Linked DNA regions of Homo sapiens: region 2 is linked to region 1. Evidence: fine-mapped expression QTL. A gene starts in region 1. The other region holds a variant in brackets. All regions are shown on one strand. Distances are between the middles of the regions.

The links. PIP is the estimated chance that this variant, and not a neighbour inherited with it, causes the effect.
Region 2: its variant is the best candidate, but not a certain one, in a credible set for the expression of LINC01215 in whole blood (INTERVAL, PIP 0.69).

Annotation. Positions count from the first base shown.
Region 1 is chr3:108,122,293-108,127,676 of GRCh38, forward strand. It overlaps LINC01215 (long intergenic non-protein coding RNA 1215), which reads left to right and starts at 2,772. Exons shown (of 2, transcript NR_110030.1): 1 at 2,772-2,850. It overlaps LOC105374031 (a long non-coding RNA gene), which reads left to right. Exons shown (of 8, transcript XR_007095997.1): 8 at 1-854. RefSeq lists enhancers at 1,955-2,214, 2,009-2,509, 2,295-2,344, 2,415-2,554, 2,835-2,884 and 2 more.
Region 2 is chr3:108,135,207-108,140,590 of GRCh38, forward strand. It overlaps LINC01215 (long intergenic non-protein coding RNA 1215), which reads left to right. Exons shown (of 2, transcript NR_110030.1): 2 at 1,108-3,404. Among named protein-coding and RNA genes, the nearest start is that of LINC01215, 13 kb to the left of the region's middle. RefSeq lists an enhancer at 1,367-1,506. The variant A/C (reference allele first, on the strand shown) is at 2,743.

The sequences.
Region 1 (5,384 bases):
TGCTCCTTTCTCCGGCTTGAGCTCAGGCAGGTGGCTCCCATGAAGGCAAGGGTGGAATTATTCCTGCTTTAGGGCCAGGATGCTTCAGAGTGATGGCCCAACAATTATCTTCCTCATGGAGGCGGACCAAGGAATCACCTTCCTCATTGAGCAGGGGACAATAATTCTTGGCAGGGGTTCCCCTTCTTCTGCTGTAAGATTGGGTAGCTTTGACAGGTTGTGAGTCAGTTAAATTGTACTTTTCAGGGAGTTCCTCTCTCCCATTTGGAGATTAGGATTAGATTTGTTGGTTAAGAAACTGACCGAGAGAGGAGAGACAGCTCCTTGCTGGCCACATAGCTCATTCATGGTGAAGTTGAATCTGGGGCTCAGATATCCCAATTCATAGCCCAGAATGATTTCTACTGCACCACACCACAACTGTTGCAGTTGCACTAATTACGGTTTTATATTTCCTTATAAACTTTTATTAAACCCCTATCAAATAGTATGTCCTCATTGGTAGCAAGAATAATAAATATTTATTGAGTTGTTATGAATATTAAGCCTACTTTTTTTTCATGTAATCCTGAAAAAAGGCAACATGACAGAGATGCTCTCAGTATCCTTATTTTATATCAGGGAAAGTGGAGGCAGAGGGAGGTTAATAACTTGCCCAGGTCTGACACCAGATCCCATCCTCTTACCCCCACAAGCCCATGTGCAGATTCCTCCTGACAGCTTCTGGATTCTGATACACGAAAGAACTTATGAAGATGACTTGAAGGCTGGAGCTGGCGCAACATGAAACTAATCAACCAGATTATGCAAATTATTATGTAAACTCCTATTATTGAGCCAGGATTCATGACAGCCCCTTTTTTCCAACGCTGCTGAGATAAAAGCAAATGGATTGCAACACTAGCTTGGGATGAATTCAGGGAGCTTGGAAAGAATTCCTGGGATTTTCTGGGCAGTGGAAAAGACAGTGGGTTGGGAGTCAAGAACCTGAAGTTTAGTTCCGGATCTGGCATTAGGTAGCTGCATGGCCCTGGGAGGACCTATGTGCCTCAGTTTCTTCAACTGTGAAACGAGATAAGACTCCATGCTCTGGAAGACCCCTGCCATTCTAGGCATCTCGGATGGCATGTCCAAGATGGAAGCACACAATGGCAGAGGCTTGTAGCGACCTTCAGGACAGCTTTCCAGTAGCTGTAAATAAAAGTCTTATTGTTTGGTTCTTGGTCTTTCCCCCCTCTCAGTGACAGGAAGAATAATAAAAGCAATGGCACTATTGTGTGAAATAAGTGTTTTCTCATCCAAAAGAAAACATGACATATACAATAGCAAACCATTTGCAAGCTGAAAAAGTAATTAATTGTATAATTCACTGAACATGATAGGAAAAGTGAATTATGATAAAGGAGAAGGACTGAGAGTTAACAAATGAAAATTTTATTTAAAAGTTTTAAAATTTTGTTTTTTTTAAAAAAGGAGAGCATTGAAAGGTGATTAATCTACAGAAACAAAGAACTATTTCAAACACATTTAAAAAGGCACAATTAGAAGAATACCGCAAAAATAAAAAGAAAAATTCAGTTTGATCTGAGGGGGAAAAGAAAAAGCTGTTTTCATGAAAAACAGATTTTGAAGTACTTTTGTCATCAGCTTCCTTTCAATTCTTCTGGTTAATTTCATGAAGGCTGTGCGACCTTTCAACTTCCAAATGTTTGCAGGAGGGAAGGGTGGTAACGTGTGAGTGGAAAAACAATTAATTTTCAAGGTATGGGATTTTATAGTAGAGACTTCCTTAGCAGGATGGACCGTGACAGGGTGTTAGTGATGGAGACCTTAGGAGGAGAGGGCAGAAGATATGGGTTTGAGGTCCTGATGTACTCTGCCTGCTGTGTGATCTTGGACAAGTTCCGACCCCTCTCAGGGGTTCAACATCTTCCTACCTACATGAAGTGATGGGATCAAACACCTCTGTGGCCCTCTCTAGTCTATATGTTTGCATTTCTAACTGTAGAGCATGATAAAAAAATAAATCAGAAGTCAGTGATCTTTAGGTTACTAGTCAGGATGAAACTCAAAAGATCTATTTTTAAAATTATGAGTATTGGGTGTGGTGAAAATATTCATATTTGGGGTCAGAGAGTTTTTCTAATAGAATCAATTCTAGAGCATTCAGACTTGCTCTCACCCCAAAGAGGAAGTGAATGAAAGCTCTTCTTTCTCCTCTGCTGCTTTCTTTGTCCATGGGAGTATGCAAATTTTTCTGGCAACACAGAAGACTGAACACAGGAAGCCTGAACCCCGTGAAGCCATAAGGCTTAGCATGGGTGTGGAGGGTGATCAACCCCTCATCTGTCATTCAGAACTCCATGCTGCAACACAGAGGGGAAAAAAAACCTTCTGCTCCCTGTTTCAACCTCAAGGGCAGAGAACACAGGCCGAGTTGCTGTTCTTGTCTCACAATCTGGAGGCCAGAAGTCTGAAATCAAGGTGTCGGCAGGATTGGCTCCTTCTGGGAGCTGCGAGGGAAGTATCTGTTCCAGGCCTCTCTCCTTGGCTTACAGATGGCTGTTGATATGGTTTGGCTGTGTCCTCACCCAAACCCCATCTTGAATTGTAGTTCCCATAATCTCCACGTGTCATGGAAGGGACCCGGGGGAGGTAATTGAATCATGGGGGCAGTTACCTTCACGCTGTTCTCGTGAAAGTGAGTGAGTTCTCAGGAGATCTGATAAGGGGACTTTCCTCATTTTACTCACTCAGTTCTCTTCCTGCCACCACTTGAAGAAGGACGTGTTTGCTTCCCCTTCTGCCGTGATTCTAAGTTTCCTGAGGCCTCCCCAGCCATGCTGAACTGTGAGTTAATTAAACCTCTTGCCTTTATAAATTACCCAGTCTTGGGTATGTCCTTATAGCAGCATGAGAATGGAAATACAGCCATCTTCTCCATGTGTCTCTTTACATTGTCTTCCCTCTGTAAGCGTTCGTTTCTGTTATAAGACACTAGTCTTATTGGATTAGAGACTGTAATGACCTCATTTAAATTTGATTACCTCAGTAAACACACTATCTCCAAATAAGGTCACATTCTGAAATATTCAGGGTTAGGACTCCAGTAATATCTTTTTGTGGGGAGACACACTTCAATCCATAACATACTATAAGAGAAGGGAGCGCTTACCACTGTCCATTACCTGGAACCAGTTCAGACAACCATCATCTTTCTACATGCGATGGAGAAAACAGTTCACCTGGGCATTTTTGCTATGACAGGAGGAAACGTCAATATCAAACCATTGGAGAAGGTAGCTGAGTCATTCATTTGTGGCAGCAACCATCTTTCCTTCCCGCACCCCCTGGCTAGGCTGCTCCATGTTGGGAGGTGGTGTGTTCAGTACAGCCACAGTGAGCTAAGTGAGGGCTTCAGCTGCAGGCTGGAGTGACCCAGGGAGGAACTGCCGCCTATCAAAAGGAAACACCTGCCACAGAAGGTTCACTGAAGCCTGAGAAAATAAACGTCAAGAGCTCTGGGCTGTGCCACCACCAGTCTCCACCACTATTCTGAGGCAGAATGCACCTATTGGCTCACAATGCTGTGAAAGAAAACAAGAAAGTCGTGATGGTGAGCGCTGCCCTGCAGAGATAATGAGCCACTAGAGTAGTTCTGAGGCAGGAGCCAGAGGAGCTGTGACACAGAGGCAGTCAGGGAGTGGGACTGGGGTCACAGGAGGGGCTGGACCCAGTGGTCTAGTGCCTCATCTCATTCCAGATATGTGACCTAAGATCTGCATGTGTGTGCCTGTGCATGTGTGTGCCTATGTGTATGTGGATATGTGGCAACATATATGTGCATGCATGTAAGTGAGTACACATGCATGTGCATGTGGTGGGGTGTGGGTGACTGGATAGAGGGAGCATGGGGAAAGGGAGGGAAAAGAGGGTTAAAACCGTGACAGGATAATAAGCATCTGAAATACTTAACTACAACAAAATGTTCTGAGGCTTTGTACAGCCTTATTTTCCAAACTGCAGGTTGTGGCTCAGCAGTCAGCTGGGAAATCAATTTACCCATGCAGAGATTCTTAACCTGGGTCTGTGGACACTGCCCTTTCCCCACAAGAGGCCCAAGGATAGAATTGTATTTCAATATCATTGATTTCCTTTGTAAGCCTAAGAGTTTTGCTTTATGCATTTAAAAACACTACAAGAAAGGATCCATAGGCTTCATCACATGGGGTAGAAATGGCACGTGCACACATGCATACACACACACACATACACACAAACAGATACACACACACACACAAACACATATACACACACACACAAGGTTAAAAATCTCTAGGTCAAAACCAGCATTTTAAAAAGTTATTAAGATAACTAGATTATAAAGAAATTAAAAAATTTGAGCTATGCATGTAATGAGGGTACTGTTTTGTGAAACTGGTTTTAGATATACAAATACTTGTGTATATAAAATATACATATGTATATGTGTGTACATATTTATGCACACACATTTATTTATTTGTTTATTTTGTGATGGAGTCTCGTTCTGTCACCCAGGCTGGAGTGCAGTGGCATGATCTCAGCTCACTGCAACCTGTCTCCCGGGTTCAAGCAATTCTCCTGCCTCAGCCTCCTAAGTAGCTGGAACTACAGGCATGCCACCATACCCAGCTAATTTTTGTATTTTTAGTAGAGACGGGGTTTCACCATGTTGGCCAGGATGGTCTCGATCTCCTGACCTTGTGATCTGCCCGCCTCAGCCTCCCAAAGTGCTGGGATTACAGGTGTGAGCCACCCTGCCTGGCCATTTATTTTTAACTGTAGGGCATAGGGCAAAAAATTGATAGCTAGTGTTCAATAGCCTACTGGACATTAGGGTAAAAGATTTTTTTAAAAAATTTTTAAAAATTATGAGTGAGGAATGTAGTGGGCCATTTGTGTTTCAGAGTGGAGGGCTCTGCTATTAGGCAGACATTTGACTTTTCACTCGGCACATCCACATTCCAGCCAGTCTCCCAGTGAATGGTGATAAGCTGGCCCTGATCATGCCTGTATGGCTACACCCCTCTCTGCCTTGTTGAGGCCTGAGTTAATTTGAAGTGTTGCAGAGACATGTGTTGATTCCTGTGGCTACAAGGCTCCCGGAAGTGTCAGAGGCAGAGGTATTGTTTCCTGGGAGGGGTGTCTTCCTGTGTACCGCTGGTGTACCACTGGTGTATGCCTGCCCAGAAGTTTGTTCTTTCACACCCACAGGGCCACCTGAAGAAACAGAGATAGGGTCTCCCACGGAATGGGGCAGCAAAAGAAGTAAAGCAAAAGTGAAGAAAAGAGAAATAGGGGGCAGCAAGTGTTCAGGAAAAGGGGGGTCAGATAGGAGAGAG
Region 2 (5,384 bases), 13 kb after region 1:
TTTTAAAACTACATGATACAACTGAGAGCTTGGAAGCTATCCATGCATAAGTTTTAAAACCCAGCAGCTTCATGGTTTCCTCCTTCTGTTGGCCTGGCCAGTGGACACAGTGGTCACGTTCCTGGCATGGAGATGTCATTCATGGTAGGTGTTCTTGAATTGGAGCCTAAGGCTCCAGGACTTTTGTGGGTTCCTCCAGAATCCTACATCCTTATACACTCCCACGGGGTGCCTGCCCAGGTGAGTGGCATGCTTCATGGTATCCTTTCAGACTCTATCACTCCTACTTCTCCAACCCTGACTTACAATATGACCTGGGGAAGGATTAGAATGTTGGTATATTTTAATTTGCTCCTATGCCAAATCACAGTGCTTATATTTGCAACTCTGAGAATTGATGGGGACAATACATAGATTTAGAATTCACATGTGTGAGCACCATGAAGTACTTTGAACTTCACTAAATGGGGAAAATACAAGACACTACATTTAGAAATTGTTTAGGAGCAGCAAATGGAGAGAAGCAACATTTTTGCTTTAAAAAAAAACAACATCACAACCCCTTGATTATGTGCAGCACACAATTTAACAGGTGTGTGATTTATTCATTTATTCACAGACTCATGGACCAACCATTCCATCACAGCACTATTGTCTGTGAAGCAAAACACATTTACAGCAAACTGTATCAGCTCCTCAGAGAGACTGAATTAACCCATCTAAAAATCCTTTGCTTCCGATTGAAAAAGAGGGTTAATATCATCCAAATGATGAACATAAATAAACTTTACCTCAGTAAAGTTCTTTCCATCTTTGGATTTCTGGGTCATCTCTAACCAGTGCTTGATATGAAAGGGGGAAAAATAAAACTTGTGTATTATTTTTAGTGGATAAATGGAATATAATTGTTTCTCCATGTGTATCTAGAATTATGGCCTTCTTGGGGAAAGTACTACAGCCCCTCCCTTCCCTGCTCACTCATCTCTTTTCTTGGGAGAAAGATGGTTTTTCTGATTGGTGAGACTGGGGAAAACTTGATACCCACTCTGCCAGGTTTCTTTACCTGACAAAGTTAAGTGTTCATGAGTCATTTCTCTTTTTCTCTAGGTCTCTCAGACCCAAGTGTTACCAGTGAAGGGTGTCCAGGTTCTTGGCGCTTTGAACAAAGAATTGGACAAAACTCACAAACAAAGCAAGAAAAGAAAGAAGCAACAAAAGCAGAGATGTATTGAAAATGAAAACACACTCCACAGGGTGGGAGCAGGCCGAGCAAGCAGCTCAAGGGCCCAGTTACAGAACTTTCTGGGGTTTAAATACCCTTTAGAAGTTTCCATTGGTTACTTGGTGTACACCCTATGTATATGAAGTAGTGGCCTGTGATCAGTCTGATTGGTTGGAAGGGACCAATCAGAATGCAAACGTCTGATTAGTTGTGGAAAGTGACCAATTAGAGGCTGAAGTGAAGTTACAAAGTAATACTCCCACGCAAATGAAGACTTGGCCCACAACCAACCTGATTGGTTGTGAGAGGGGACCAATCAGAGGGACTTTCAGTTTTTCACCTGCAATGCAGAAAAAGGGTGGCAGGTGAGGGGTGTTGCAAAGGGAGTAGCCTCTGGTCCTTTTGTTACTTGGGCACTTGGGCGTGGAAAGTGGGGGTTTTCCTTTTGATTTAGTTCTAGGAAGTCAGCGTGAATTGGCCTTACATTCCCTGCCTCCAGACCCTATTCTCCTGCCTCACAAGTGCTCCTAGGAGCTGTACATGCCTGTCTTTGTCCCCATGTAGTCAGCTCGTTACAGGTGGGTCCTGCTGGGTCTTTCGTTCTTGCTTCTCTGCTTCAAGATGGCTAATAAGTCCTGGTCCAGTGAGTCCCCAGTGCAGACATAGAGCAGAAGGGAAGTGGGTCCAGTTGCATTTCCTGCAGTTTAATAAAGAACCCTGTGCTCTCTGGCCCATTACCTAAAGCTGATATTGTGCTTGGAACGTGTAGTGTTATCCAATCCAGCTTTACCACTGCTAAAGCTGATACCACGCTTTGATCCTCTGCTTGCTCATTTTGCCAAGTTCTTAACTGCGTGGAACTGGAAGGTGAGGGCTGGATGATTGATTTTTCACCCTGCCCCCAAACTCCAACAACCGAAACCAAGGGTTCTTGAAGAGAGAGGGGCAGGGCAGCAACAGGGAGACTGAAACTTGGGGTGGGGGGGGGGCGGGGGGAGGGGGGCGGACGGAATGTTTTTGAAGTGTGTGTTTGCCTAAGGTGTGTGTAGAAAGGTAGCTACTTTTCAGTCTCTGCCTGCCTTTAATCCATTACAATGTCCTAATTAAAAACATTTAAAAAGCTACATTGGAAAATGATCCCTGAGGCTAGAATGCTGTTGGCACAGTGAAAAAGACGCAATCAATAAGTAAACAGGCAATGTCAGCCCGGAGAGCTTTCAGAACAACATGCCTACTCGGGGGAAAAAAAATTACAAGTCGCTTTAGCCTATTTAAATATTTTCCAAGATCTTTGTTAAATTTCAGGTAATAATATTTCTTCCTTTGAACAAGCGTTGTATGTTTGCCTTTGACTGAGAATGGCCTAGGCTAGAGACCATTTGGTATTCAACTTGTGACTATTTTAGTATGGGGCTGGACCCCAAAAATTCATGCTCAATGAAATGATTTTCACTTACTGAGATGAATTTACTTTTTGCTTCCTTCAGCAATTCATCAATCTAATGGAAGAAAGAGTAGCT[A/C]TCATCATAATGAGAATAGACTTCTACGAGTATGAGTCAATGTCAATACTTTATTTAATAATGCAAATTCTATTACTATATATTTGGTCTCAATCCAAATTTGCTTTAAATTGAGTTTCCTTGCCATTGCACACTCCTATCTTTCTGAACACACACCACCCCACACACACACCATACACACTTGTTTCATTGCGCTTCATTTTATTGCACTTCTCGAAGAATGTGTTTTTTACAAATTGAAGATTTGTGGCAACTTTTCATCGAGTGAGTCTATTGGCATCATTTTTGCAAGAGCATATGCTCACTTCCTGCCTCTGTGACAGCATTTTTTAGCAATAACATATTTTTAATGAAGGTATGTACATTGTTTTTTAGACATAATGCTATTGCACACTTGACTAAAATGTAGCCTAAGTATAATTTTTATATGCCATGGGAAACTAAAAAAAGTGACTTACTTTATTGTAATATTTGCTTTATTACTTTGGTCTGGAACTGCCTCACACTATCTCTGAAGTATGCATGTATAGCTTTTCATAACACAGATATCACATTTGACCAGATCCTATTGTTACTGAACAATGTTGATGCTAACATTGATGATATCAATCACTATTACTGGAATCATTATCAACATATCAATAAATATTTTTAGAACATTTTGAAATTGTCAGCTGGGTTTTGGTTAAATACTTCTTGTCTGATATATTATATCCCAAAACAATAACAGTAGCTGAAAATACCAGAGAAGATATACTTTTTAAAGTAACATATTGTCATAACGTATAAGTATCAAAATTTCATACTGCAGCATGACTGACATAAAGAACACTTTGTTGTTGTTGTTGTTGTTTTGTTTGTTTGTTTGTTTTGAGATGGAGTCTCGCTCTGTCACCAAGGCTGGAGTGCAGTGGCACAATCTGGCTCACTGCAACCTCCACCTCTCTGGTTCAAGCAATTCCCCTGCCTCAGCCTCCAGAGTAGCTGGGATTACAGGCGCATGCCACCACGCCTGCCTAACTTTTCTGTATTTTTAGTAGAGATGGGGTTTCACCATGTTGGCCAGACTGGGCTCGAACTCCTGACCTCAGGCAATCCGCCCATTTTGGCCTCCCAAAGTGCTAGGATTACAAGTGTGAGGCACCACGCCCAGCCACAGAACACTTTTAAACCACTGAACTGATAAAGGGGCTATAAAACTCTTCTATTTCATTCTTTTTTTTTTTGAGACAGAGTCTTGCTCTGTCATCCAGGCTGGAGTGCAGGGTGGCAATCTCAGCTCACTGCAACCTCTGTATTCCAGGTTCAAGCAATACTTGTGCCTCAGCCTCCTGAGTAGCTGGGATTACAGGTGTATGCCACCAAGCTCAGCTAATTTTTGTTCTTTTAGTAGAGACGGAGGTTTTGCCATGTTGGCCAGGCTGGTCTCGAACTCCAGACCTCAAGTAATCTGCCTGCCTTGGCCTCGTAAGTGCTGGGATTTCAGGCATGAGTGACTGCACCTGGTCTATTTCATTCTTTATAAGCAGAAAACTCTAAATACTTCTAGGATAGGTGGTTCTGAGCAGTAGGCATCTATGTATTTAAGAATATTATGGAATCTTCTGGTTTCTCCAATCCTGTCCACCTATCTTCATTAGGATGTCCTGGGCGTCTCATGTGTTAGCAGTGCCGTTGACCCTTGAACAACACAGGTTTCAACTGCACTGGTCCACTTATACATGGGTTTTCTTTTGCCTCTGCTATTCCTGCTAAACAAACCCCCTCCTCTTCCGCCTACTCAACATGAAGATGATGAGAATGAAGACCTTGATGACTGATCCACTTCCACTTAATGAATAATAACTATATTTGTTGTAATTTTCTTAATAACATTCTTTTTCTAGCTTACTTCATTGTAAGAACACAGTATATAATACATATAATATACAGAATATGTGTTAACTGACTGTTAATGTTATTGGCAAGGCTTTGGGCCATCAGTGGGGTATTAGTAGTTAAGTTCTTGAGGATCAAAAGTTATACTTGGATTTTCAACTGCATGAGGGGTTGGTGCCCCTAACCTCCACATTGTTCAAGGGTCAACTGTAATTTCCCAGCTCCTGTTTCTCTGGTTTCTGACCTGCTACTGACCTGCTTCCAGCTTGGCTTTGTAGTCTCCTACTTCATATCCTCCTTTATTCCTTGAACCAGGCCTTTGACTTTGGGATCCCTTCAAGAACACTTGGCTCCTTCCCTCCTGGCTACACATACACATTGTTAGGAGGGATAAGCACCCTAGCAGGCTCTAGATGCAGCTGCTGTCCTAGTTTCTCTTGTGGGTGGATTTGGGACAGCAGGGATTCAGACCATAATGTGGTTGTTCCTCATCCTTCTTTACCTAACTATTAATCATTGGATTTCTTCAAGGCTTAGTCCTAGGGAAGCCTACTTACTAACCCTGTACGCTCTCTGAAAGAAGAAAAATCTACACTTATTGAGTAGTTAATTGAGTGGTTACTAAATACTGAGAACTATGCTAAAAGTTTCAAATGCAAGAAGCCATTTTAATACTCCCAACAGCATTATAAGGTAGGGAATAGTATATTCTCTGTTTTTAAATATATGGGAAATTCAGAGTATTTGAGTAATTTCTTCATGGT